Linked DNA regions of Homo sapiens. The protein of the gene in region 1 interacts with the protein of each later gene in a biochemical or structural test. Each region holds a gene or a part of one and is shown in the gene's direction. Other genes may lie near its edges.

Evidence for each region.
Region 2: the proteins of MAP4K4 (region 1) and GBP3 form a complex in vitro, tested with the Homo sapiens proteins (one study listed by BioGRID and IntAct).
Region 3: the proteins of MAP4K4 (region 1) and STRN form a complex in vitro, tested with the Homo sapiens proteins (one study listed by BioGRID).
Region 4: the proteins of MAP4K4 (region 1) and MOB4 form a complex in vitro, tested with the Homo sapiens proteins (one study listed by BioGRID).

What each region holds. Positions count from the first base shown.
Region 1 is NC_000002.12:101,700,707-101,707,706, forward strand, and holds part of MAP4K4 (mitogen-activated protein kinase kinase kinase kinase 4), read left to right. Parts: intron 1-7,000.
Region 2 is NC_000001.11:89,012,838-89,019,875, reverse strand, and holds part of GBP3 (guanylate-binding protein 3), read left to right. Parts: intron 1-4,461; coding exon 4,462-4,589; intron 4,590-5,219; coding exon 5,220-5,329; exon of another isoform or gene 5,330-5,445; coding exon of another isoform or gene 5,446-5,471; intron 5,472-5,596; coding exon 5,597-5,793; intron 5,794-6,448; coding exon 6,449-6,691; intron 6,692-7,038.
Region 3 is NC_000002.12:36,956,523-36,963,560, reverse strand, and holds part of STRN (striatin), read left to right. Parts: intron 1-7,038. UniProt on the Homo sapiens protein: Calmodulin-binding scaffolding protein which is the center of the striatin-interacting phosphatase and kinase (STRIPAK) complexes.
Region 4 is NC_000002.12:197,540,038-197,547,075, forward strand, and holds part of MOB4 (MOB-like protein phocein), read left to right. Parts: intron 1-73; coding exon 74-116; intron 117-313; coding exon 314-400; intron 401-7,038. Other genes in the region: HSPE1-MOB4 protein, read left to right, coding at 74-116, 314-400.

The sequences.
Region 1 (7,000 bases):
GTTATCACACTTAGAAAAATGTCATATATTCACTATTAACGTTTTCTTGATTGTCTCATACATCAGTAAAATGTGTTTTTTTTTTTTTTTACTATAACAAGTTCTTTAATGTTTACAAGCGGGTACTGGGAACTTCAATCTTAGAAGTGGTGAAAATAGCAGAACATCTCTTTTTTTCCTCTTTTTAACTATTTAATTTCTAGAACCATTTACAATTATGTGTAGGAGTTAATTTAGGATTTTTGTTGGTATGATTTGCTTGTGGTAGATTTGGGATTACATTATTAACACTTTAGAGTTTGTTTATTGCTGCTAAACATCCTTTAGGATGAATAGCATTAAAGTTTGAGAAATACTTGTTGCTGAATTGTTATTTATAAAAAGGTCTTTATTTTTAAACATAATTTCAGGTAAAAAAAATCTGTAAGCTGAACAACTTGTCCTAATTTATTTTAGTGTCATATTTTCTATTTTTCATTAGCGCAGATGTTGCTTATTTTGAGGCAACTATATTTACATGAAGTGAGTGAGTTGAAAAGAGGGAGTTTTCTGAGATTTGATATGTCGTATGAAATAGCTTCTTTTGGGGCGAACGACTCTCCTGCAAAACTGTGCTAATGGTAGACCCCTCATTTATGGAAGAAAGGGAGGGGGAGGGGTGTGTGTGGCAGTAGGGCTAAGAGTGACCTTTGGGAATGGTAGAAAGGTTAGGGAGTAGTGGGAATTTCAAGGAGATGTTATTTGGACTTGAGGAGAGACATCTTCTTTAAGCATTGAGGAGCCACTGAAAGGTTTTGTTGGAATTGGGGATCCCTGAGAGTAGGGGACTTGATCCAGTTTTTTGGGGATAACTTCTAATTTTCTGTGTCTCTGACAACAGTGGTAAATGGTCTGGTATAGTTGAACAGTATGTAACTTCATCTTAAAAGAAGGAGGTGAAAAACGGGGTGTATTCTGTTTAGAGAAATTTATTTTCACCCTTAGGTTTTTGAGAGACGGATACTCATAAACTTAAAATTGTAAATTTCTCTTCACAAGGTTACATTCAGAGTACCATATATTTATAAGAGAAGTGTCTGGTATGATCAGTGAGGAGAATGATAGTGTGAAAAATTAAAACCAGAAATAAATCAAGTTTGTTTCCATGTTATTTTGGATTTTATTGTTATTTTGTTTTGAGACGGAGGTTTGCTCTGTTGCCCAGGCTGGAGTGCAGTGGCACCATCTCTACTCACTGTAACCTCCGTCTCCCGGGTTCAAGTGATTCTCCTGCCTCAGCCTCCTGAGTAGTTGGGATTACAAGTGCGTGCCATCACGTCCAGCTAATTTTTGTATATAGAGATGGGTTTTCACCATGTTGGCTAGGCTGGTCTTGAACTCCTGGCCTCAAGTGATCTGCACGCCTTGGCCTCCCAAAATGCTGGGATTGTATACAGGCATGAGCCACTGCACCCGGCCTTATTGTTATTTTAAATATTTATTTGACCATTTTTGTGTTCTTGGGGTAACTACTGTTATTTTGCATTTTGTGAGCATGTGATGGCTGGTGTTCCAAATGTCTTGAATAAAAGATTGTCAACCGGACGCGGTGGCTTACGCTTGTAAATCCCAGCACTTTGAGAGGCGCAGGTGGGCGGATCACTTGAGGTCAGGAGTTCGAGACCAGCCTGGCCAACATGGTGAAACCCCGTTTCTACTAAAAATACCGAAAAATTAGCCGGGTGTAGTGGGGGGTGCCTGTAATCCCGGCTACTCAGGAGGCTGAGACAGGAGAGTCACTTGAACCTGGGAAGTGAAAGTTGCAGTGAGCCGAGATTGTGCCATTGCACTCCAGCCTGGGCAACAAGAGTGAAACTCTGTCTCAAAAAAAAGAAAAGAAAAGAAGATTGCCAGCCTGAGGACAATTCTGAGTCTTGGAAGGACTGACAGAGGGGAAATCCGGTAACAGTAACGTGGAAGTCAGGGAGTTTAGAATCCAGCAGGTAAAATGTCTGAAATCAAGGTTCACTCAAAGGAGGGACCATAGATTTTGTGGAAGACTGACCCATTCTGATCTTGTCATTGGAGGAAGGGTACAATGTGGACCTTGGAGATTGAGGACAAGGGTACCCTAGGCCCAAAGACCTTGATGGTAAGGGGAGCTAACGCTAAGAGTTTGCTCATTCGATGCCCATTTGACACTGTGCTCATGTTAGACCCCTCATTTATTGAAGAAAGGGAGGGGAGAGGTGAGGTGTTTGTGTGTGGCAGTAGGGCTAAGAGTGACCTTTGGGAATGGTAGAAAGGTTAGGGAGTAGTGGGAATTTCAAGGAGGTATTATTTGGACTTGAGGAGAGACATCTTCTTTAAGCATTGAGGAGTCACTGAAAGATTTTGTTGGAATTGGGGATCCCTTAGAGTAGGGGACTTGATCCAGATGTGTGTTGGGAAGGAGCTGGTAAAATGGTTGGCCTTGGGCAGTGGTCCAGTGACAGGAGGTGAAGGCCGAGGCGGGATAGTGGCAGTGGTGGTAGAGAGGAGGAGAGGTTGGGGTGGATACTTGGGCATTACTCTTTGCTAGGTTTAACATGTTGAATTCACTCGTTCTCTGCAGGCTTTGGTATGTCCCTTTAAGTGGGTACACGGTTTGCCCACAGTATTAGGAGGAGCTTTGGGATTCCCAGCACTTTGGGAGGCTGAGACGGGCGGATCACCTGAGGTCAGGAGTTGGAGACCAGCCTAGCCAACATGGCAAAACCCCATCTCTACTAAAAATATAAAAAGTAGCCAGGCGTGGTGGTGTACGCCTGTAATCCCAGCCACTTGGGAGGCTGAGGTGGGAGAATCGCTTGAACCTAGGAGGTGGAGGTTGCAGAGAACTGAGATCATGGCACTGCACTCCAGCCTGGGCAACAGAATGAGACTCTGTCTCAAAAAAAAAAAAAAAAAAAAAGGCGGGGGTGGGGTGGTTAAAGTGCTAAAATTGCTTTCGATTGCTCAGTGGTAAAGTGCCATATAGATTGTCTGGCTTTTAAAAATCATTAGGGGCCGGGCACGGTGGCTCACACCTGTAATCCCAGCATTTTGGGAGGCCGAGGCGGGTGGATAACAAAGTCAGGAGTTCAAGACCAGCCTGTCAACATGGTGAAACCCCATCTCTACTAAAAATAGAAAAATTAGCCGGGCGTGGTGGCGCGTGCCTCTAGTCCCAGCTACCCAGGAGGCTGAGGCAGAAGAATTGCTTGAACTTCCCCAGGAGGTGGAGGTTGAAGTGAGCCGAGATAGCACCACTGCACTCTAGCCTGGGTGACAGAGCCAGACTCCTCCAAAAAGAAAAAATAAAATAAAAAAATTTGCATTTTGGAGCAAGTACTTAAACTTTTGTGAGGGATTCTCTAAGTGTTATCTTTTAAGTGTAGCATCTCTCGTTCTTAATTGGAGGTAAAGACATCCACTGGGGCAAAATGAATTTTGTAGAACCAGATGTTTTCATTAGGAGGAGATTGTGTCAGCTGATCTGCCACTGAGAGGCATGTTCAGGCTTGTTCTGAGACATAGATTTCCTTCATGTGGAAGATTCTGGACTTGGACAAGGTGGGAGGAAGCCAGCCCTGTTGAGCAAGCCCTGCTCTCAAAGAGTTTCAACCCTTACTTTCAAAAACTGTTTTACTAACTCAAACATCAAAAGCTCTACAGAAAAGCCAACCACCAAACAAAACCCTGCTGATGATGGGTTTTTAACTCCTTACTGCTTGAAACTTTGTGATAAATGTACATTTATTTGCCTAGCTGCAAACTCAACTCGTATTTTGCCTTTTTTCTTAACCAATATTTTATGTGTGTGTGTGTGTGTGTGTATATATATATATATATATATATATATTTTTTTTTTTTTTTTTTTTTTTGAGATGGTGTCTCGCTCTGTCGCCCAGGCTGGAGTGCAGTGGTGTGATCTCGGCCCACTGCAAGCTCTGCCTCCCAGGTTCAAGCGACTCTCCTGAGTAGCTGGGACTACAGGTGCATGCCACCAAGCCTGGCTAATTTTTGTATTTTTAGTAGAGATGGGGTTTCACCATATTGGCCAGGCTGGTCTCGAACTCGAGTCAGGGTAAAGTTTTTAGACATACAGGGAAAGATGACTAGGAAGAAAATGGAGAAGGCCAAGGTAATCTTATATTTATTACCAGTGACCATTGTGGCAGCAATGGTTGTTAGGTTTTATAATGTTATATCACTGCTCACCAAACAGAATTTGTTCTTTTGTTATGGAGCAGGTTCAGTAATAAGAGTTGGTGAGTATTATTCAGAAGAGAAGCTGCCTCTTGGGTTGAGTAATTAATAAAGTGATTCATTGGGAGGTAGTTTTTGTCTGTAAGAATCTCTAAGGAATGATCACAATGATAAGTTTTAGGACATCCCGTTTTAAAAACTGGACTCTTACAAACTTTGTTATCTAGATAGCATTAGGTATAACTAAATTGGGGAGACAAAAGTGAAAAACGATTAACCATATAAGGGTGGTTTCATGCAGGTACTGTGGATGTGTGCTGGGCCCTGTTCTGAGAGTTAGATACACAGTGGTAAATGAAGCCGATGATATATCTACCCTTATGGAACTCAAGAAAAACAGGGGGATGGACACAAAATGCCAGCTGTGGGATGTCAGTCATACATTCTGTGTTGTCTGCATCTCCCTGGGTTCCCTGCCCAGCACACTTGTGTTCAGACACAATGAATGCACTGACACATGGAAACAGCACATACTGCAATGTGTTCATTTTAAGTGGCTCAACCTCATCAGCAGGGCTTCTCTGTGCTTTAAATTACAGTAAAAACAAATGAAAAGTGAAATGAAAAGGTAGACATATAGAATATCAGTCTACTTTTTTTACTCGTAGAATCAAAAGACATTTTCCCATGTCAAATTGCTGTAAAAGTTTTTGTTTTTGTTTTCTTTTTAAAAAAGTATAAGAAACTCAGGTGATATAAAAGTTTTTATATACTTTTAATTTCAGAAATGATCTTGCTGTGGTCAGCAGACCACACTTTGAGGAACACTGAACTGGCAGGATTGAATTTGTAGCAGGGCTCTTAGTAAACTGTGGGTGGTTGGTGTGTTAGTGAGCTGGAGAATTGAGGACTGTTGTTTGTGCCTAGTATTTGGTTCTCCCACCCTTTGAACATTGGGGAGCTACAGCAGGTGCTGCTTACAGCTTTATGCTTTAGTGCCAAAACGTCTTTGACCCCTGTGCTTTGGAACTGTCTCAGATATGGCTAAATATGAACAAGTTATCCTATTAAATTTAAATAAATGAAAGAAAAACCCCACTTTTACATTATAACTTTAAAAAATCCTTCATATGATAAATAGGGCCTTAACTTACCAGTTATGAATCGATAGTTATAATCAAATGATACTAAAGCGCTCATACCAAAAGTCAGAGTCATCCTGTTCTCCAGAAGCATGTTTTCAGTGCTTTTAGCTGCTACATCTGAAATTTATTGCTATATTTGTAAATTATGTACTTATGTGGCTAGTTCATTTATCAGTTTTATACATTTATTGACGTCCTCTAGCAGTAGTTGTAGTTATTGAACTAGTTAGTTCAATAGTAGTTGAATATTTAACTCCTATACTTGCTGCCTCCCTTAAGTGGGCATACCATAATTTTGGGTTAAAGTGATAGTTGTTTCTTTTATCATGACTATGTAAATACCATTTATATGTGAGCTAAACAGTCTCATACGATTACATTTCCTTTTTTAAACAACACCCCTGCCCCCACATCGCTTTTAGTTTTTCATTTGCTTAGTTTTCTTTGTACCTATCATCACCTTCCTCCTCAGATACCCTAAAAGGTATAACAAATGCCTAACAAAGTTTAGTCTTTATCACATTTTCCAAATGCTTAATTTAACACCACACGTCAGATAATTTATTGTTGCAAGATAACCTGTTGATTTCAATTTTTTCTCCCTGGAGTTTCCTCATAGCTATGCAGGTATGGTTGCCCCTGGACCTGGCATGTAGCTATTATTGTCCTGGAATGTCTGTTTCCTGGATACTGCAGTCTTCCTTTTTGGTTTACTATCTTACTTTCCTGAAGCACATCCTCTAGTAGTTTTAAAAGAAAGGGTATATGGGTATTAAGGTTTTAAGTCCTTGTATGGCTGAAAATCCCTTTTTCTTATCACTGCCTCATCTTCTCTTGTCTGGAACATAACTGCTTTCGATTTCTTTAGGGACTAAATCTCTGGTTTCCTGTGGGTATGGAGTGATGTGAGGCAGTTACCAGACTGTGTAAGGCAGAGAAAGGGGACCTGGGGCTTTCAACCACTAAATATGCAAACTTTCATCAGTTCTGATTTTGGCCTTGCACCTCACTTGGTATTGGTTTATTCCAAATGATGACCTTGTCAGGGTTTTGTAGGTCCAACTGTCTCACTTCTTTTTGGTATCCTTTAGTAGGCACTTAGGTTGTAATTTTTACCTCTTAGTTACTACTCCATCCACTTTTTATTTTATCTTTTTTTTTTTTTTTTTTGAGACAGTCTCACTGTTGCTTAGGCTGGAGTGCAGTGGCGCCATCTTGGCTTACTGTAGCCTCCGCCTTGTGGGTACAAGCAATTCTCTTGCCTCAGCCTCCCAAGTAGCTGGGACTGCAGGTGCGGACCACCATGCTCGGCTAATATTTGTACGTTTAGTAGAAATGGGGTTTGACTATGTTGGCCAGGCTGTTATCGAACTCCTGACCTCAGGTGATCCCCCTGCCTGGGCCTCTCAAAGTGCTGGGATTACAGGCATGAACCACTGCCCCTGGTCTGCCTGTCTGTCTGTGTCTTTTGAGACAGAGTTTTGCTCTGTCCCCCAGGCTGCAGTACAGTGGTGTGATCACAGCTCACTGCAGCCTCAACCTCCTGGGCTCAAGCAAACTTCCCACATCAGCCTCTTGAATAGCTGGGACTACAGGTGTGCACCACCATGTCCAGCTAAGTTTTTTTTTTTTGTTTTTTTTTTTTT
Region 2 (7,038 bases), on another chromosome or scaffold:
GTATGTAGTTCTGTGGTATTAATTAAATTCAAATTGTTGTGCAACCATCACTACCATCTATTTCCAGAACTTTTTAATCTTCCCCAAAAGAAACTCTGTGCCAATTAAACAAAAGCCCCACCTACACCCATCTCCTGCCACAATTCTACATTCCATCTCTATTAATTTGACTACTCTAGGAATGTTATATAAGTGGAGTCATTCAATATTTGTCCTTTGGTGACTGGCTTATTCTAATTCACATAATGTCTTCAAGGTTCAGTGTGGTAGCATGTGTCAAAATTTTTCCTTTTTGGCTGGGCACTCATGGCTGTAATCCCAGCACTTTGGGAGGCCAATGCAGGCAGATCACCTGAGGTCGGGAGTTCAAGACTAGCCTGACCAACATGGAGAAACCCCGTCTTTACTAAAAATACAAAATTAGCTGGGCATGGTGGCACATGCCTGTAATCCCAGCTACTCAGGAGGCTGGGGCAGGAGAATCACTTGAATCTGGGAAACAGAGGTTGCGGTGAGCCAAGATCGTGCCTTTGCACTCCAGCCTGGGCATAGAGCGAAACTCCATCTCAAAAATAAATAAAGAAATAAAAAATTCTTCCTTTTCAAGGCTAAGTAATTATATGTGTATACTAATTTATCTGTTCGCTTGTCAGTTGACACTTGGGTTGCTTACACCTTTTGGCTATTACAAATAATGCTGATAGGATCATGGGTGTCTGAATATCTGTTCGAGTCCCTGCTTTCACTCCTTTTCAGTATACACCCAGAAGTGGAACTGATGGCTCATATAGTCATTCCATGTTAAATTTTTTAAGGAATTGCTGTATCATTTTCCACAGTGACTGCACCATTTAGCATTCCCAACAGAAATGCACAAGGGTTCTAATTTCTCTTCATATTCACCAACATTTGTTATTTATTGCGGGATCTGGCCAGCAGCCTGCAATGCAACGGGGCTCTCTCTTTGTTCCCAGGCAGACCGGCAGGTCGAGAAATAATAGATACACACAAGATAGTGAAAGCTGGGTCCAGGGGGGTCACAGCCTTCTGGTCCCGTGGTGCTGCCAATGCACTGGATATGCCAGCATTTATTATTAAGTTTAGTGAGGGTGGGGGAAGGTTAGTGAGGGATTTAGGGTCGTTTGATTATGAGGTGAGATGGTCACATGGGGATGAAGTAATTCTTTAACATAACATCTGTATGCAGAAGTACAGTATACAGAGATAAGAATTTACAATATAGTGTGTGCATCAGTAATTTCTAACAGAGCCTTAAAACAGAAATGCAGTCTTTCATAACCTATGATTAGCAAGATATTAATCAGCAGTAACAGTTGCAGCAAAAGCTGGTTACAAACAATCCATAGAAACAAGACGTGAAGCTAGACAACCGGTTAGACCAGAAATTCTCAGAAGGGAGTATGCCTTAACCCTAAAGAGGCCTAGAAGAGCCATGGCAAGATGAATGCGTTTATGGCCCTATCTTATCCACATGGACAGGTGCCCCCTCTCTCCACAAGGGTCTCATTCCATTCCCAGAGCTATGAACATCTGCTTTTCTGGGATAGGAATCTTGGTGATGTGAAACCTCCCTGACTGCACATCCATTCATAGGCTCTCTGCAGGGGGAAGCACATCACGTCCCGTTGGCTCATTCTGGCAGTCCAACCTGGCACTGTCTTTGCACAATCCTGCATGCAATTTTGTATTTACAATAATCAGGAGCATTTCATCTTTTATTCCATAGCAATAGTTTCACGGGGTCTCCCTACAGTTATTTTAATTTTTTTTTTTTTTGAGACACAGTCTCACTCTGTCACCCAGGCTGGAGTGCAGTGGCACGACCCCAGCTCACTGCAACCTCCACCTCCCGGGTTCAAGCGATTCTCCTACCTCAGCCTCCCAAGTAGGTGAGATTACAGGCACCTGCCACCATGCATGGCTCAGTTTTGTATTTTTAGTGTAAATGGGGTTTCTCCATATTTGCCAGGCCGGTCTCAAACTCCTGACCTCAGGTGATCCACCTGCCTCAGCCTCCCAAAGTGCTGGGATTTCAGGCTTGAGCCACTGCACCCAGCCCTTTTCAATTTTTTTTGATAGTCACCATACTAATGGATGTGAAGTAGTATCTCACTATGGCTTTAATTTGCATTTTCCTAATGACTAGTAATGTTGAGCATCTTTTCAGGTGCTTATTGGCCATTCTTTAGAGAAATGTCTATTCAAGTTCTTTCTTTACTTTTTAATCTGTTTGTGTTGCATTGTAGGAATTCTTTATATTTGCTAGACATCAATTCCTTATCAGATACACGTTTAGCAAATGTTTTCTTCCATTCCATGTGTTGCCTTTTTATTCTGTTGATAGTGTCATTTGATGCACAAAAGTTTTTCATTTTGATGAAGTCAAAGTTATCTGTTTTTCCTTTTACTGTCTGTTTTTCCCCTTTGTTTTCTCCCATGAGTTTTATAGTTTTAGCTCTAATGGTTAGTTCTTTGATCCATTTTGAGTTACGTTTTGGATTGTGTAAGCTAACAGTCCAACTTTTTTTTTTTTTTTGGCATGTGAGCATGTGAATATCCAGTTTTCCCAATGTCATTTGTTGTAGAGACTCCTCTTTCTGCGTTGAATGATTTTAGCATCCATGTTGAAAATTTTTTGACTATAGATGTGAGAGTTCATTTCTAGGCTCTCTACTTTACTCCATTAGTTGATAACAGTGTTTAAGCCAATACCAAACTGTGTTGATTATCCTGATTTTGTAGTAAGTTTCAGAACTCAGAAACTGTGAGCCTCTGACTTTCTTCTTCCTTTTTGAGATTATTTTGACAATTTGGGGATCTCTTGAAATTTCATATGAAAGTTAGTGTGGATATTTTTGATGTTTTTATTTATAAAAAAATCATTGGAATTTTGATAGGGATTGCATTGAATCTGTATGTCACTTTTACAGGATGTCTTTCTAATTATTTAACTCTTCCTTAATTTCTTTTAAGAATGTTTGGCCAAGCACAGTGGTTCACACCTGTAATCCCAGCACTTTGAGAAGCTGAGGCCAGCAGATCACTTGAGCTCAAGAATTTGAGACCAACTTGGACAACACGGGGAAACCCCATCTCTACAAAATATACAAAAATTAGACAGGCCTGGTGTCACGTGCCTGTAGTCTCAGCTACTCGGGAGGCTGAGGTGGGAGTATTGCTTGAGCCTGGGAGGTCAAGACTACAGTGATCAGTGATCACAGTCTAGCCTGGATGACACCGTGAGACTCTGTCTCCAAAAAAAAAAAATTTTGTAATTTTCATTATACAAGTCATTCCCCTCTATGGTTACGTTTTTTGGGTTTTTTGTTTGTTTGTTTTGTGACAGTCTTGCTGTGTCACCAGCCTGGAGTGCAGTGGCACAATCTCGGCTCACTGCAACCTCCACCTCCTGGGTTCAGGCAATTCTCATGCCTCAGCCACCCGAGTAGCTGGGATTACAGGTGCCCGCCACCACACCCAGCTAATTTTGTGTGTGTGTGTGTGTGTAGTTTTAGTAGAGACAGGGTTTCACCACATTGGCCAGATGGTCTCGATCTGCTGACCTTGTGATCACCTGCCTCAGCCTCCCAAAGTGCTGGGATTACAGGCGTGAGCCACTGTGCCTGGCCAATTTTATTCTGAAGTAGTTTGCCCTTTTGGTGGTATGTTAAATGGGATTGCTTTCAAAATTTCCTTTGTGGATTGTTCTTTGCTACTGTATACAAATGCAACAGATTTCTGCATGTTAATTTTGTATGCTGCAACTTTGCTGAATTCTTTTTATTAGTTCTAACAGTTCTGTGTAATATTTAAAGTTTTCTGCAGAGATCATATCATCAGTAAATAGAGATTATTTTACATCTTCCTTTCCAATTTAGATGCTTTCTGTTTCCTTTTCTCACCTAATTACTCTGGATAGGACCTCTAGTACTTTGTGGAAAAGAAGTGGCAAAAGTGGGCATCTTTTCCTTGTTCCCATATTAGAGGAAAATTTTCAGTCTTCACCATTGAGTATGAAGCAGGCTGTGGATTTTTCATGTATGTCCTTTGTTTTGTTGAGGTAATTTTTTTCTGTTTCTCTATCCCTCTTTTTTTTTTTTTTTTTTTTTTAAGACAAGAGTCTCGCTCTGTTGCCCAGGCTGGAGTGCAGTGGTGCTATCTCAGCTCACTGCAACCTCCGCCTCCTGGGTTCAAGTGATTCTCCTTCCTCAGTTTTTTTCTATTTCTAATTTGTTGATTGTTTTTATCATGAAAGGTCCTGAATCCATTTATGTACTGGATATTCAAATTTTTCTATTTTTCTGATTATAAGTAACGTAAGTACTGATTGTGGTTTTGGTTATCTCTCTTAACATTAATCATGATGCTACATTTGCCTCAATTTCCTGAAGTACCTGCTATTAAACCTCCAGCCCTTCTTATCCCATCTCTCCTTTACAGGCTTCTCTCTGGGCTCCACAGTGAAATCTCACACCAAAGGAATCTGGATGTGGTGTGTGCCTCACCCCAAAAAGCCAGAACACACCTTAGTCCTGCTTGACACTGAGGGCCTGGGAGATGTAAAGAAGGTAAGGGTCAAAGATTCAATTTTGAAATAAGCCCCTCATCTCTGAATATTTTAAGCACCATTTAGTTTTTTCTTAAAGAAGAGTTTGCATTTAACTATAATTTGTCTTTTCATTTCTGTGTACATGTCATAAGGCCAAACTTAGCAACCAGAAGTGAGAAAAATATTCATAAGACAGAATCCTAGCAAAGCATGGTGGTCAACACACAGTATTCTACTAACCATAGGTTGTAAGCTATGTGAGTTAACACAGATGCATAAAGGGAGCACAAATAAATCCAATGTCACGAGTCCTATCCTGCAAAGAACTTATAATTCAGTAGCCTGAGCAAGTTTAAATTATACTTCAGGCCTTAGAATGCCCATTAACCTTGAATGTTTATTTTGCAATTGTCTGCCAATGATCATAAGAGGACCTGGTGAGAATCAGTGTATACCAAAAAACACTAATCAAAAAACTATACACATTCCACAGCTGAGTAACAATCATTTTGTTTGGATTTGGGTTCTTTTCATAGGTCATTAGTCTTAAAAGAAAACTCTAACTTATGATATACTTTTACTACTGTCACTCTGGAAAGTGCTGTGATGATGAAACTTGCTCCTGACTCCAGTGTGTCTTGACTTCCAGGGTGACAACCAGAATGACTCCTGGATCTTCACCCTGGCCGTCCTCCTGAGCAGCACTCTCGTGTACAATAGCATGGGAACCATCAACCAGCAGGCTATGGACCAACTGTAGTATCCTTTTGTGACCCAGAACAGCACCAAGGTCAGAGGGGACACCTGTATTCATAAACCAGCTGCCTGACTGTGAATCCTGATGAATCAAGCTCAAAAGGAGAAAACAAAAAATAATGCAAGTACAGAGGAGAGATCCCATGTATCCACTTTAGAATTGACACTTAGGTTAGGATCAAAGGAAAATGGAAGGTTTGGGAATGTGTTGAACTAATATGGGATGAGGTTCCTGTTCATTTTGTCACATTTCCTTAGTTAGCTACTCAGCTATGTGACAGAGCTGACACATCGAATCCGATCAAAATCCTCACCTGATGAGAATGAGAATGAGGATTCAGCTGACTTTGTGAGCTTCTTCCCAGATTTTGTGTGGACACTGAGAGATTTCTCCCTGGACTTGGAAGCAGATGGACAACCCCTCACACCAGATGAGTACCTGGAGTATTCCCTGAAGCTAACGCAAGGTAACAGAGACGTACCATTGATAAATGAGGACGACAAAACACTAGAAATTATCATTTTTTAGTTTACTATTGATAGTTTTCTCACATTTACAGTTTTCTATATCTCTAGCTTGCTATTCTTAAGAATTAATGCTTGCTATTAGCAATAGAAAAGGTTTTTTGAAAAAAGGAAAAAAGGAATGAATGCTTGCTGAATATCTAAATTAATAGATTAGATTTTAAATTATATTCTCCTGTGTTCTAAAATAAGTTTCTTTTTCTTTCATTTTTTCCTATTTTACAATTTAGGTAAATTTTATCTCCTTATGTAGGGTTCGTGATTCTGTATTTACCTGTAAAATATGAAGGACAATGGATATTTACTTAAAGAACATAGATTGAACATGAACAGTGTACTAGTCCAAATGCTGGCGAACTGCAGCCTAAGACAAATGATGGCCAATTCTGCCTGCCAGCTGTCTTTCTAAGTGAGGTTTTTTGGGAAGAATGCTATGCCCATTCATTTACATATTGTCTAAAGCTGTTGTCATGCTCCAATAACAAAGTTGAGTACTTGGAAAAGAGACCACCTAGCCTGCAGAGCCTAAAATATTTACTATTTGACGCTTTACGGAAACACTTATATTAGGCAAATTTCTTTATTATGTTTCTCTAGGTACCAGTCAAAAAGATAAAAATTTTAATCTGCCCCGACTCTGTATCCGGAAGTTCTTCCCAAAGAAAAAATGTTTTGTCTTCGATCTGCCCATTCACCGCAGGAAGCTTGCCCAGCTTGAGAAACTACAAGATGAAGAGCTGGACCCTGAATTTGTGCAACAAGTAGCAGACTTCTGTTCCTACATCTTTAGCAATTCCAAAACTAAAACTCTTTCAGGAGGCATCAAGGTCAATGGGCCTCGTAAGTCCCCTTCGTAGTACTTCCACTCATTGTTAAAACTAAAGGATGGCCAGGCATGATGGTTCATGCCTGTAATCCCAGCACTTTGGGAGGCCGAGGAGGGCAGATCACTTGAGGCCAGGAGTTTGAGACCAACCTAGCCCACATGGCAAAACCATGTCTCTACTAAAAATACAAAAATAAATGAGGCATGGTGGCACATACCTGTAATCCCAGCTACTTGGGAGGCTGAGGCAGGAGAATTGCTTGAACCTGGGAGGCAGAGGTTGCAGTGAGACGAGATCACGCCACTGCACTCCAGCCTGGGTGACAGAGGAAAAAAAAAATATGAAAGGAGCATAGAATAA
Region 3 (7,038 bases), about 65 Mb from region 1:
GGAAGAGTTTGCAGTAATCTCTGGTCTTTGTCCCCCCTTATTAGTGTAATTGGAAAAAAAATTATTACCATCGTTACATTTGAATCTTCTTTATTTTTCTTTTGCTACTGGAATTTTCTTAGAAACACAATAGGAAGTAAAATAGTTGAATGCGTTGTGATGAAATACGGCTCAGTTGGTGTCCTCCTTTTAATTTTTAAATCTCTTCCTAAGCCATTAACACCAGAGTCAACACAAATACCTTTAAGATGAAGTCAAATTTGCCTCTTCAAGAACCTGTCAGTCCTGCTCTTTCAGGTTGCCAGGGAAGACTTGTGAAAGGCAATCCAAGCTCTCATCTGCCTGGCCTGCCTTTACTGCTTCCTCCCTCCTTCAGATCTTGGGAGTAAGGAAAGGGCCACGTTATAGCAAAAACCTATTTATTTGTCACTTATTTCACTCTTGCTCATCTTATTTGATAAATTCTCTTTTTATTTTTGGTAATGCTCCCCTCCTCACATCCAGTTGAGATTAGGCAGTAGTTCATGGGGGGAAAAAAAGAATGATTAAGATTATTAGTGAGCTTTACATTTGTGAAAGGAATTGGAGAAGGAATACTAATAATATTTGAGAAAAATTTCTGTATGTGAGGCATTGTGCTAGATGACCTCAAAGAAACATGCAGTCTAGTTATTAGTACGATATAACTTGTAGAAGAATCAGAGTGTTTATCATTTGGGGAGAAGGCTAATTTCTTTAGAATAGTGAAGGAGAGGCCGGGCGCGGTGGCTCACACCTGTAATCCCCAGCACTTTGGGAGGCCAAGGCAGGCGGATCGTGAGGTCAAGATATCGAGACCGTCCTGGCCAACATGGTGAAACCTTGTCTCTGCTAAAAATACAAAAATTAGCTGAGCATGGTGGTGTGTGCTGGAGGCTGAGGCAGGAGAATCGCTTGAACCTGGGAGGCGGAGGTTGCAGTGAGCTGAGATCGTGCCACTGCACTCCAGCCTGGCGACAGAATGAGACTCCATCTTAAGAAAAAAAAAAAGAATAGTGAAGGAGAGAAGAGCCAGCAGTGAATGGGGAGAATAGCAGGAGTAAAGAACTTTATGAGTTCATGAGAACCTAAGGCTCAGTATTTGAAAATTACTGACTTATGAGAAAGCAGGCATGTAAATAAAAAATAAAAAATGTTGGCCCTAGATTTTGATATGTGTGTGGTGTGTGGTGTAGGAGAGGCCCTGATATTTACCTGTAAGTGTTAGAGTTGTATGAAAAAGGTGGCAAGATTGAGTAGCTTAGGGCATGTGGTGTGGAGGCTGTATGCTAGAGTTTTGGCATTAATAACTTGTATTTTCTGGGTTTTGGCATTAATAATTTGTATTTTCACTCCCCAAATATTTTTCAAGCATCTACTTCATGCCAGACCTTGTTCTAGATACCGGAGATACAACAGCAAAAATACAGATCTTGCCCTTATGAAGCTTAAATTGTTGAGGCAGGCAGACAGTGATAAATAAATACATAGAATGTTGGGAAAGAAAATAAGAGGATTTGAGAGGGTGGAATGGGGAAGAAAGGATTCACTGATAAGATGCCATTCGAGCTAAGACCTGAAAAGGTGATCTCTAAGGTGAGGAAAGAGCTTTCTACACAGAAGGAACAGCTGGGGGAAGGGAGCACGCTTGGAATATTTAAGGAATATCAAGGAGGGAAAAGTGGCTAGAGTAGAGGAAGAGAATGGAAGAAGTCATGTCAAACAGGTACTAATGGAAGAAGTCATGTCAGACAGGGTCTTGCCCATTGTAAGGACTTTGGCCTTATACCTCAGCAAGCTGAGCAGCCGTCGGAATGTTTTAAGCAAAAGAGTGACACCATCTTTAAAAGGGACCCCTTGTAAGGATTCAGAACAGACTTGGAGGGAAAACAAGTAGAAGCAGCAGGGGGACTAGTTAGGAGGCTACTTTAATAAATCCAGGCAGAAGATGAACTAAGGTGGTAGTGATAAGATATGTGAATATGTATTTGATACGTATTCAAAATACAGGATTCTGAATACATTTTTAAAGGTAGAGCCAACAAGATGTGCTAAAGGATAGAATGTGGGGTTTGAGAAAAAGGGGAGTCAAAGATGACTTAACAGTTTTTAGAGGGCCAGGTGCAGTGGCTCAAAACCTGTAATCCTGTAATCCCAGTACTTTTGGGATTGAGGCTGAGGCAGGAGGATCACTTGAGTCTAGGAGTTCAAGACTAGCCTGGGCAACATGGCAAAACCCCATCTCCAGAAAAAAAAATTTTTTTAATTAGCCGGGTTAGTCCCAGCTACTTGGGAGGCTGAGGTGGGAGGATTGCTTGGGCCTGGGAGGTTGAAGCTGCAGTGAGTCATGATCACTCCACTGCACTCCAGCCTGGGCGACAGAAGGAGACCCTGTCTCAGAAAAAAAAAAAAAAAAAAAAAAAAAAAGTGCAGCCTGGGCAACATGGTGAAGCCCCATCTCTACAAAAAATTCACAAAGTTAGCTGGGTGCGTTGGCATGCGTCTGTGGTCCCAGCTACTCGTGAGGCTGAGATGGGAGGATTGCTTGAGCCCTGGAGATCAAGGCTGCACTGCGTTATGATCATGCCCCTGCACTCTAGCCTGGGTGCCAGAGTGAGGCCCTGTCTCAGAACAAATCAATCAAACAAACAAACAAACAAAAATACATGGATATAGAGAGAATGAGCAGCCTCATAGGACAGCTGAGAAGATTTACTGAGCTTTTTAATGGAAAACATAAATACTTAAAATGAGTTTGTCTTTATTATTGTGACTATTATTTATAATTATCACAAAAGGCAATATGGCAGAGACCTGGGTTTAAAATTCTTGCTTTAAAACTTACTATTGTATTTTACGCCTAAAATACATATTTGCCGTAATTCTGATCTCTCAGAGCCTTAGTTTTCTCATGTGTAAGTTAAGGATAATAAATTACCTTGTGAGAATTAAATTAAGATAATTTAAAGTACTTAGCAGAGGCATGGTACATAAGATAAAGTAAGTGCTTAATAAATGGTTGCAGATGCATGATGCTAAACTTTTGCTCTCGGTTATCTCCTCATCCCCAGAGAAAAGCATAATCTTCAGTCATGAACTTTTCTGAGGCTGGAGCATACAAGTGCCATCCTGAGGCCATGCAGTGTAATATTCTGGGTCTGACCCAGGCACTAAGAGATATTTAATGGGAGTGAATGGTTGCCTTCAGTGTCAGCCTCAGAACATTGAGGATATACTTCAAGTGTATTTGCTTTCCTTTTAATAACCCAGTAGGTATCTGTTACCTTGAAATTCATATAAACTTTTCTGAATGTGTTTATCTTAACTTTGCATTACATCATGGGTAACAAATTGTGTAAATTTACTAACCACATTATGAAATGAATCCTACATTTTATTTGGCTCTTTAAGCCACTTCCTTTACATGTGGAGCAGGTGAACTCCATTGTCATATGGTATAATTTTGTCAGCAGGTTCATTTTTCATTCTACTCATATTCTTGATAATTTCATAATCTTTATATTTTAGAAAGGTTATAGAGGCTTTAATCTTTTAAAACGTATCCTATTATTTGTCTCTTCAGTTCAGTGTTTCTCAACCTTAGCTATAATCTTAGAATAATCAGAGGGAATGAATACTAATTCCCTGGACTCTACCCCAGATCAATTAAATCAGAATCTTAGGAATGAGGACCCCTAGCATTAGTATTTTTTGAGCTCCCCAGTATACAGCAAGGATTGAGAACCACTGCTTTAGTTGTTTTTTTCTGTTTTTACATTATCTATAAAAGTTTGGTGATTTCAACACTTTTATTAGTATTCCCTATATGGATGGCTTTTTATAGAATTTGGGATATAATTTCTTTTTCCATTGTTCTTTCTGATGATAGCATTTTATTTTTAGGCAGTAGAATATTATAATTTGAATCACCTCCTTCTGACTGAGATGTAATGACAGAGTAATCTTTGAGCTGGAATGAACTTTGGAAATAATCAGCTCAGTTAGGTAAAGTGAGGTTCAGAGGGAGGCTGAATGACCAAGAATGAAATAGGTTTTGTACAAGCTGTCACTTACATCTCCAGATATCTTTACAGTTTTATTTTTTCATATTTTTTGTCTAGGGGCCAGGCTAATCATCTGTATCATTCCAATTTGAGTATATGTACTGCTACAGCCAGCACTCTTTACAGTTTTCTTTAAAGCCCTTTCAGATACACTGTACCATTTAAACTGTACAACCTTCTGAGGTAAGCAGAGCCACACTGATGCTTATTTATTTATTTTTTTTAGATAACAGGCATAAAGATTTTACTGTGTTTTACTGCTTTCTAGCTTATTTTATTGGTTGCATTTAAGATTTTCTCTGTCTTTGGTGTTATGTAGTTTCATTATGATGTGTCACAGTATAGATTTCTTTTTCTTTTTTTGAGATGGAGTCTAGCTGTGTCGCCCAGGCTGGAGTGCAGTGGCACAATCTCGGCTCACTGCAACCTCCGCCTCCTGGGTTCAAGCAATTCTCCTGCCTCAGCCTCCCGAGTAGCTGGGACTACAGACGCCCGCCACCATGCCCTGCTAATTTTTTGTATTTTTGGTAGAGATGGGGTTTCACTGTGTCAGCTAGGATGGTCTCTATCTGACCTCGTGATCCGCCCGCCTCAGCCTCCCAAGTGTTGGGATTAGAGGCGTGAGCTACCACACCCAGCCTATATTTCTTTTTATTTTGTTTGGGACTTCATTAGACTCCTTGAATTTGTGGATTGGCTTCTCATTAGTTCTGCAGATTTCTCAGTTGCTATCTTGTTAGGTTTGTCCTCGATTGCATTTTCCTTTCTTCTCCTTTTGGGTTTTTGATTACATGATCTTAGGGCTTCTCCATTATCTGCTCTGTATTTTCCATCTTTTTATCTCTCCATGCTTTATTCTCGATAATTTATTCTGACTTATTTTCCAGTCTGTGAATGACATATCTTCCACTCCATTAATTTTCTCTTCAGTTGAGTCTGATTTGTTAAAACCATCCACTGAATTTTTAGTTTTGGTTATTGTTGAAGTTCATTTTGGTTTCTTTTCAAATCTGCTCGGTCATTTCTTAAAAAAATATTGTTCTGTTCTCTGCAGGTATTTTCAGTGTCATCTTTAATTCTTTAAACATAGTAAGTAGTTATTTTTTAGTTAGTGTCTTTGCGTTTCCTTTATCTGAGGTCTTAGAGGTGCCTTTGTGTGGTCTGTTGTCTCTGCTGGTTCTTGTTCATGACGACGTGTTCCCTTGTATCCTTAGTTTACCTTTGTGTGCCGCCTGCTGTCCTTGAAAAACTGTGAGACTAGACAGGCACGGTGGCTCATGCTTGTAATACCAGCACTTTGGGAGGCTGAGGCGGGCAGATCACCTGAGGTCCGGAGTTCAAGACCAGCTTGGCCAACATGGTGAAACCCCGTCTCTACTAAAAATATAAAAATTAGCCAGGTGTGTTGGCACATGCTTGTAATCCCAGTTTCTCAGGAGGCTGAGGCAGGAGAATCACTTGAACCCAGGAGGCGGAGCTTGCAGTGAGCCAAGATCGCGCCACTGTACTCCAGCCTGGGCAACAGAGTGAGACTGTCTCAAAAAAAAAAAAAAAAAAAAAATTAGCTGGGCGTCGTGATGGGCGCCTGTAATCCCAGCTACTCGGGGGGCTGAGGCAGGAGAATCACCTGAACCTGGGAGGCAGAGGTTGCAGTGAGCCGAGATTGCACCACTGCAATCCAGCCTGGGCAACAGAGACTCCACCTCAAAAAAAAAAAAAAAAAAAAAAAAAAAAGACAAAAAGAAGAACTATGAGACTAATCTGAGCTCTCAAATAAAGGTATCTTCTTCAGAAAGGTTTTTTTTTGTTTGTTTTTTGTTTTTTACATTTCCTTCTGGTAGATGTCTAGAGTTATTACCAGTCTGGGGCCACTTTATTTTTTATTTTTATTTTTTGAGATGGTCTTACTGTCACCCAGGCTGGAGTGCAGTGGTGTGATCTTGGCTTACTGCAACCTCTGCCTTCCAGGTTCCAGCGATTCTTGTGCCTCAGCCTCCGGAGTGGCTGGGACTATAGGTGTGCACCACCACGCCTGGCTAATTTTTGTATTTTTAGTAGAGACGAGGTTTTGCCATGTTGGCCAGGCTTGTCTTGAACCCCTGGCCTCAAGTGATCTGCCCGCCTCCGCCTCCCAAAGTGCTGGAATTACAGACGTGAGCCACTGCCAGGCCTGGAATCACTTTAAAGTAAATGCATTACTTAAGATGTTTGGGCCACCCAGCTGATGTGAATTTTGGTTGTGAATACATTTGAGGGCCAATATACTTCTGTTTTGTCTTTGCTTTGAAGACATAAGCCCTTTAGGGATCTAGCTAAATGTGAGGTATATCACCTATTAGACTGTCCACTCTGGAGGGGTAGGGTGTTTGATTTTTGCTCCTTGAGTCCTGCAAGGCTGTTTGTTGTGATTGGTCAATATCCTAAGGGCAAAAATGGCTTTTTGTTCCTTTACCTCACTGGGTTCCCATTTTCCCTTTTATTTTGGCCAGATAATTCCTTCCTATTTTTGTGTTGCTTTTAAGAAAATTGTGAAAATATTTTGTCCAGAATTTTTGGCTGCGTTCAGTAGAAGAATTGTTGTGGGGCACCATAACTGGAAACTGAATTCTCTTATTTTACTTTCAAAATCTGACAAATAAGAATGGCCCTACTAATTTTTGGGGGAGAAATAATGTTGACAGACAGCACTTCTTTATCAAGAGATGTGCCTATTTAGTCCTGAACTTTATTTCAAATCTACTTTTCTTTGAATGGTAAAGGGAGACCTACAGTTTTTCTCCAAAATCTTGATAACTGAAGCAGAGTTTAAAACAAACAAAACCCTTTGCTATGCAGTCAATGAAAGGTGTTTGAAAGTTCAGATAATCTGGATAGAGTCCCCTTTGCCCACCTGCTATCTCCTTGATGTCAGCTATACTTTTGATTTGCTAATGTGTGTAGCATCCAGGTTTCAATT
Region 4 (7,038 bases), about 96 Mb from region 1:
TTTTGCAGCTAATATTCTAAAAATTGCTGTGAAGAATAGATATGACTTTTTATTTATGTATTTGCATTTTCAGGCAGTTCTGCCTTGAGCTAAATGGACTTGCTGTCAAACTTCAGGTAATATTTTCTTTAAGTCAAAGTTATAATTGAAAGTTCTGATTTTTTTTTCTCTGTTTTTATAACTTAATGTGCTTACAAAAACGTATCCACATTTCTAACTTTCTTCTAGAATTTATTATGGAAATATAGTAACCTAAATGATAAGCTTTTTCATTATTATTTTACATATTAAGAAATATAATTATTTTTAACAGAGTGAATGCCATCCAGATACTTGCACTCAAATGACAGCAACTGAACAATGGATTTTTCTTTGTGCAGCTCATAAAACTCCAAAAGAGGTGAGGATTTATGAAATAGAGTAACTAATAAAATTATTATAGCCTAAATCTCTCTCAAGACAATGTTAGACAAGTTTTTAGGGTTTTTAGTTCACTGTTCATTTTGCTATTTCATTTTGAGTTGCTTGTTGTGAAGTTGTTACTGCAGTGCTATTTTAGGATTTCTTATGATAAGCATCATTTTTCATAATTGGGCAATTACATGGGCTAGAACTCACTTCATGATCCACTGGCTATTACGGATTAACATCTGTCACATTGTGCTGATATCTACTGTGTAATGATTGAGATACGCCTGTTTAGGTTTTTGTTCAGATTATTTCTTTTGATAGGAAGAACTATTGATTACTCTGATGCCTAGTTTAAGTAGAAATGTTACTTTTGAGCTTTTAAATATTCATGTTGTTTTTCTCCTTATTTAGTTTTTGTCAAGGTAAGACTATAGGCAGTAGCAGTTTTTTGTTTTGCTCTTTTTTTTTTTTGAGATGGATTCTTACTCCGTTGTCCAGGCTGGAGTGCAGTGGTATGATCTCGGTTCGCTGCAACCTCTGTCTCCGGATTCAGGAGATTCTCATGCATCAACCTCCCAAGTGGCTGAGATTACAGGCATGCGCTATCATGCCGGGCTAATTTTTATATTTTTAGTAGAGATGGGGTTTTGCTATATTGGCAAGCCTGGTCTCAAACTCCTGACCTCAAGTAATCTGCCCACCTCAGTCTCCCAAAGTGCTGGGATTACAGGTGTGAACCACTGTGCCTGGCCTACTGTACTTTTTCTTATTTAAAAAATTTCTTCATATCATCTGATACCCAGTATACTTTTCCTTAGTTGTCTCCAAAATGGTCTTTACATCTGGGTTGTTTATGCATTGCTTTTCCCTTAATCTGTATTCCCATTTAATCTGTTATAATTACTTTTTACTTGACACTGACTCACTGGGGATATTGGGTTAGGCCAATTCTGTAGAATCATAGACCTTGAAGTGGTCATTATATTGATAGACTTCTAAGGCTTGAAGACAAGTGAGGCCCTAGTTGCAAAATCAATATCTGATGTTTTTTGTTTCAAAAAGGACAAATGCTCCAAAATAAGGAGTATTTGATACCTAAGAGAATAGTACTTATTTGGAAGACTGGTTTCATTCAGGATGTCACATTTTTATGTTAATTAATTGAAGCAGTATTAAGATTGTATCTGTCGGCCGGGCGCGGTGGCTCACGCCTGTAATCCCAGCACTTTGGGAGGCCGAGGCGGGCGGATCACGAGGTCAGGAGATCGAGACCATCCCGGCTAAAACGGTGAAACCCCGTCTCTATTAAAAATACAAAAAATTAGCCGGGCGTAGTGGCGGGCGCCTGTAGTCCCAGCTACTTGGGAGGCTGAGGCAGGAGAATGGCGTGAACCCAGGAGGCGGAGCTTGCAGTGAGCCGAGATCCCGCCACTGCACTCCAGCCTGGGCGACAGAGCGAGACTCCGTCTCAAAAAAAATAAAAAATAAAAAAAATAAAAAGATTGTATCTGTCTACATCTGGGAAAATCCACATAGTGGTTTCATTGATAATTCACTGAAGTTGGCTACTTAACGTAGTGAATGATGTGATTATTGCAATTAGGAAACTGAATCAAGAAGGCTGAATCAAGGCTAGTTTTGTTTTGGCAAATAGTAATGATGTATTATTCTTTCTTTAGAGTGGAAGTGATATCCAGTTTGTGATGTGTTATGACTCTTAAATATACTGTCATTCTCATATCCACTTCTTTCTTGATTAATATTAAATGACAGGATAGTCATTAGCATTAAGACCTGTAAATTGAGTCTTAGAATTGCAGCATTGCTTGCTGAAGTCCAGATCTGTTGAACTGGCCATGTGTCAAGGGAGGGTGATAGTAGGATTTCCAAGTGGTAGTTATATTGAGTGGAGTTACTGTAAAAATACAAACAAAAGAACAATTTGAAAGGACACTTTCTGAACTGTTTTTGAATAACTGCTTAGTCAGGAAACTATAGGAACTGACAAACTAAGCTAAGAAAATTGCTCTCATGGATTAAAATCACTAGGGAGATTCTGAAGTGGGAGCAGCAGAATACTTAGCACCAATAATCATTTATTCAGTATCCTTGAGAATTAAAGAGAGGCATTCAGCATATAGAGTAAATTATACAAATAGTGCTTCTAGGCGACAAACATTATAACTTACTGTCTACAAGCCCTCACAGTCACATGCTGATTGTGATCACTTGCAGTAGCATTATGATTATATATTTGGAAAAATATAATACATAAAAATTTGTAAACACCATTACATAGTATTTTGTAACCTGCTATATTTTGCCATTTTTTGCTGTTATAACTGTTACAGAGTAGGAATAGTTACCTGAGAATTAACTGGGGGAAGGTGAAGGGAAGGCAGCTAAAAACAATGCAAAATGTCATCCAAATTAAAAATTCAGAAACCAGTTAAAGGTCTAAAGATACAGTGATGTGGTAACCCATGAGCCCCATGTAGCTGTGTAGCACTTGAAATGTGGGTAGTCAAAATTGAAATATGCTGTAAACACAAAATAAATACTGGATTTCGAAGACAGTAACGCCTGTAATCCCAGCACTTTGGGAGGCCGAGGCAGGTGGGTCACCTGAGGTCAGGAGTTCGAGACCAGCCTAGCCAACATGGTGAAACCCCATCTCTACTAAAAATACAAAAAATTAGCTGAGTGTGATGGGTGTGCACATGTAGTCCCAGCTACTAGGGAGGCTGAGGTGGGAGAATCACCTGAGCCCAAGGACTCAAGGTTGAAGTAAGCAAAGATCACACCACTACACTCCAGCCTATGTGACAGAGAGAGACCATGTCTCAAAAAAAGATTCAGAAATGGCCAGTAAGCACATGAAAAGATGCTCAACATTAGTTATTAAGGCACATCTCAAAACCACAGACAGTTGGTGCGAGGGTTGTGCGTTATTGTTATGCTGATTAACATTGTCTCCTCCACAACCATGCTTGATAAGGGAAAAAAAAAAACCACCGTGAGAATGGAGAAACAAAATGTAGCATGGACATACAATGAAATATTATAAAACCATGAAAGGGAATGAAGTTCTGATACATGCTACAACACAGATGAACCTTTAAAATCCAGTATGTATTATGTGGAGTGAAACAAGTCAGATGCAAAAGGACAGATACTGTAGCATTCCACTTATCTAGAGTGAATAAATTCATATAGACATTTGAAGGTAGGTAGAAGCTGCCAAAGGATGGGCGGTATGGGAAGTTAGTGCTTAAGGGTAATAGACTTTTTTCTTTTCTTTTCTTTTTGAGACAGAGTCTTGCTCTTTTGCCCAGGCTGGAGTTCAGTGGCGCAATCTCGGCTCACTGCAACCTCCGCTTCCCAGGTTCAGGCGATTCTCCTGTCTCAGCTTCCCAAGTGGCTGGGATTTACAGGCATGTGCCACCTCGCCTGACTAATTTTTGTATTTTTAGTAGTGACATGGTTTCACCCTATTGGCCAGGCTGGCCTCGAACTCCTGACCTCATGTGATCCGCCCACCTCAGCCTCCTAAAGTGCTGGGATTATAGATGTGAGCCACTGCGCCCAGCCGAGTTTCTTTCTTTTTTTTTTTTAAGAGACAAGAGTTTCGCTCTGTCGCCCAGGCTGGAGTTTCACTCTGTTGCCCAGGCTGGAGTGCAGTGGCACAATCTTGCCTCACTGTAGCCCCCACCTCCCAGTTTCAAGCAGTTCACTGCCTCAGCCTTCTGAGTAGCTGGGACAACAGGCGTGCACCACCATGCCAGGCTAATTTTTGTATTTTTAGTAGAGACGGAGTTTCACCATGTTGACCAGTTTGGTCTCAAACTCCTGGCCTCAAGTGATCCACCTGCCTTGGCCTCCCAGTGTGCTGGGATTATAGGCATGAGCCACCATGCCTGGCCATAATAGTTTCTGTTTGAGAGTTGGAAACAGTGAAGATGGTTGCACAATATTGTAAATTAATGCCACTAAATTGTACATTTAAAAATGGTCAAAATAGCTGTCTGGGCGCGGTGGCTCACGCCTGTAATTCCAGCACTTGGGGAGGCCAAGGCGGGCGGATCACGAGGTCAGGAGATCAAGACCATCCTGGCTAACACGGTGAAACCCCATCTCTGCTAAAAATACAAAAAATTACCCGGGCGCTGTGGCGTGTGCCTGTAGTCTCAGCTACTTGGGAGGCTGAGGCAGGAGAATGACGTGAACCCTGCAGACGGAGCTTGCACTGAGTGGAGATCACATCACTGCACTCCAGCCTGGGCAACAGAGTGAGACTCCGTCTCAAAAAAAAAAAAAGGGTCAAAATGGAAAAATTTGTGGTGTATATATTTTACTACAATTTTTTAAAATGTTAAGAAAAAAGCATCAAAACCCCAAATGGCATATACTTTCATACCCACTATAATGGCTAAAATAGGAAAGATAGACAATAACAAGTGCTGACGGGGATGTGAAGTGGAACCCCTAAACATTGATGATGGGATTGTAAAATGCTTCAGCTATTTCAAAAAACAGTTTGGAAGTTCCTTAAAATGGTAAGCATAGAGTTGCATACGACCCAGGAATTCCACTCCTTGATATGTAGTTCCCCCAAAATGAAAACATTTATCTGCACAAAGACTTGTACATGAATATTCACAGTCACATTATTTATGATAGCCAAAAAATGGAAACAACCAAATATCCATCAACTGATGAATGGATAAGCAAAATGTGTTGCAGCCATCTCTCAGTAGCCTCAGAGGATTGGTCCCAGGACCCCCATGAATACCAAAACCACAGATACCAAAGTCTCTTATATAAAATGGCATAGTATTTGCATATGACCTATGCACATCCTCCTATATACTTTAAATCATCTCTAGATTACATATAATACTGAATACAATATAAATGCTATATAAATAGTTGTTATACTGTATTTCTTAATTTGTATTATTTTTTATTGTTATGGGGTTTTAAAGTGTAGTTTTGATCTGCAGTTGGTTGAATCTGCAGATGCAAAGTGCTGACTGTATGTGTACAATGGAATAATATTCAGCCATGAAAAGGAATGAAGTCTTAAAGGGAGAAACATACAGTACGGCATTTTGTATATATTAAAAACATTAAAGGCTAAAAAGTTTTGAATTTTAAAAAAAGGAATGAAGTACTGATTCATACTACACCATGGATAAGCCTTGAAAACATAATAGAAGCCAGACACAAAATGCCACTTATTATATTATTTCATTTTAATGAAATATCCAGAATAGGCAAATCCTGTGAAACAGAAATTAGGTTGGTTGTTGCTTAGGGCTGGGGGAAGGAGAGAATGGGAAGTGACTGCTAATTGGTTCAAGGTTTCTTTTTGGGATGCTGAAATGTTCTGAAATTTAGTGGTAATGGTTGCAGAATTTTGTGAATATACTAGAAACTACTGAATTTTTAAGAGTAAATTTTAGTTGTATCAATTATATCTTAAAAGTCAAAAAGTAGCCCATTAATTTTATATCAATTACCTGCTGAAATGGTATTATTTTGGATATAGTGGGTCAAACTACAATATTAAAATTAATTTCACCTCTTTCACGTTACCTTTTTATTTTTTATTTTTTAATTTTTATTTTTGAGACGGAGTCTCACACTCTTGCCCAGGCTGGAGTGCAGTGGCGCGATCTTGGCTCACTGCAAGCTCCGCCTCCCGGGTTCTTGCCATTCTCCTGCCTCAGCCTCCTGAGTAGCTGGGACTACAGGTGCCTGCCACTGCGCACAGCTAATTTTTTGTATTTTTAGTAGAGATGGGGTTTCATCGTGTTAGCCAGGATGGTCTTGATCTCCTGACCTTGTGATCCACCTGCCTCGGCCTCCCAAAATGCTGGAATTATAGGCGTGAGCCACTGCGCCCGGCCTCACGTTATCCCCTTTTTAATGTATCTCTTAGAAAGTTAATTAATTAATTTTTTGAGACGAAATCTTACCCTGTTATCCAGGCTGGAATGCAGTGGCCTGATCTTGGCTTACCTCCCTTGACCTCCTGTGCTCAAGCAATCCTCCTGCCTCAGCCTTCTTGGTAGCTGGGACTACAATCATAGTGCCACCATGTCTGGCTAATTTTTCAAATTTTTTGTAGAGATAGGGGCATTTCCCTGTGTTGCCTAGGCTGGTCTTGAACTCCTGGACTCAAGTGATCTTCCCACTTTGGCCTCCCAAAGTGCTGGAATTACAGGCGTGAGCCACCACATTGGGCCTAGAAAATTTAAAATTAAATATATGGCTTGCATTATACAGTTGACCCTTGAACAACTCCGGGATTGGGATCCCAACCCTCTGTGCAGCTGAAAATCTGAGTATCTAACTTTTGACTCCCCCAAAACTTAATTACTAATAGCCTACTGTTGACTGGAAGCCTTACCGATAACAGTCGATTAACACACATTTTGTATGTTCTGTGTATTATATAGTGTATTGCAATGAAGGAAGCTAGAGAAAATGTTATTCAGAAAATCATAAGGGGCTGGGCGTGATGGCTTATGCCTGTAAACCCAGCACTTTGGGAGGCTGAGATGGGAGGATCGCTTGAGGCCAGGAGTTCGAGACCAGCCTGGTCAACATAGTGAGACCTTC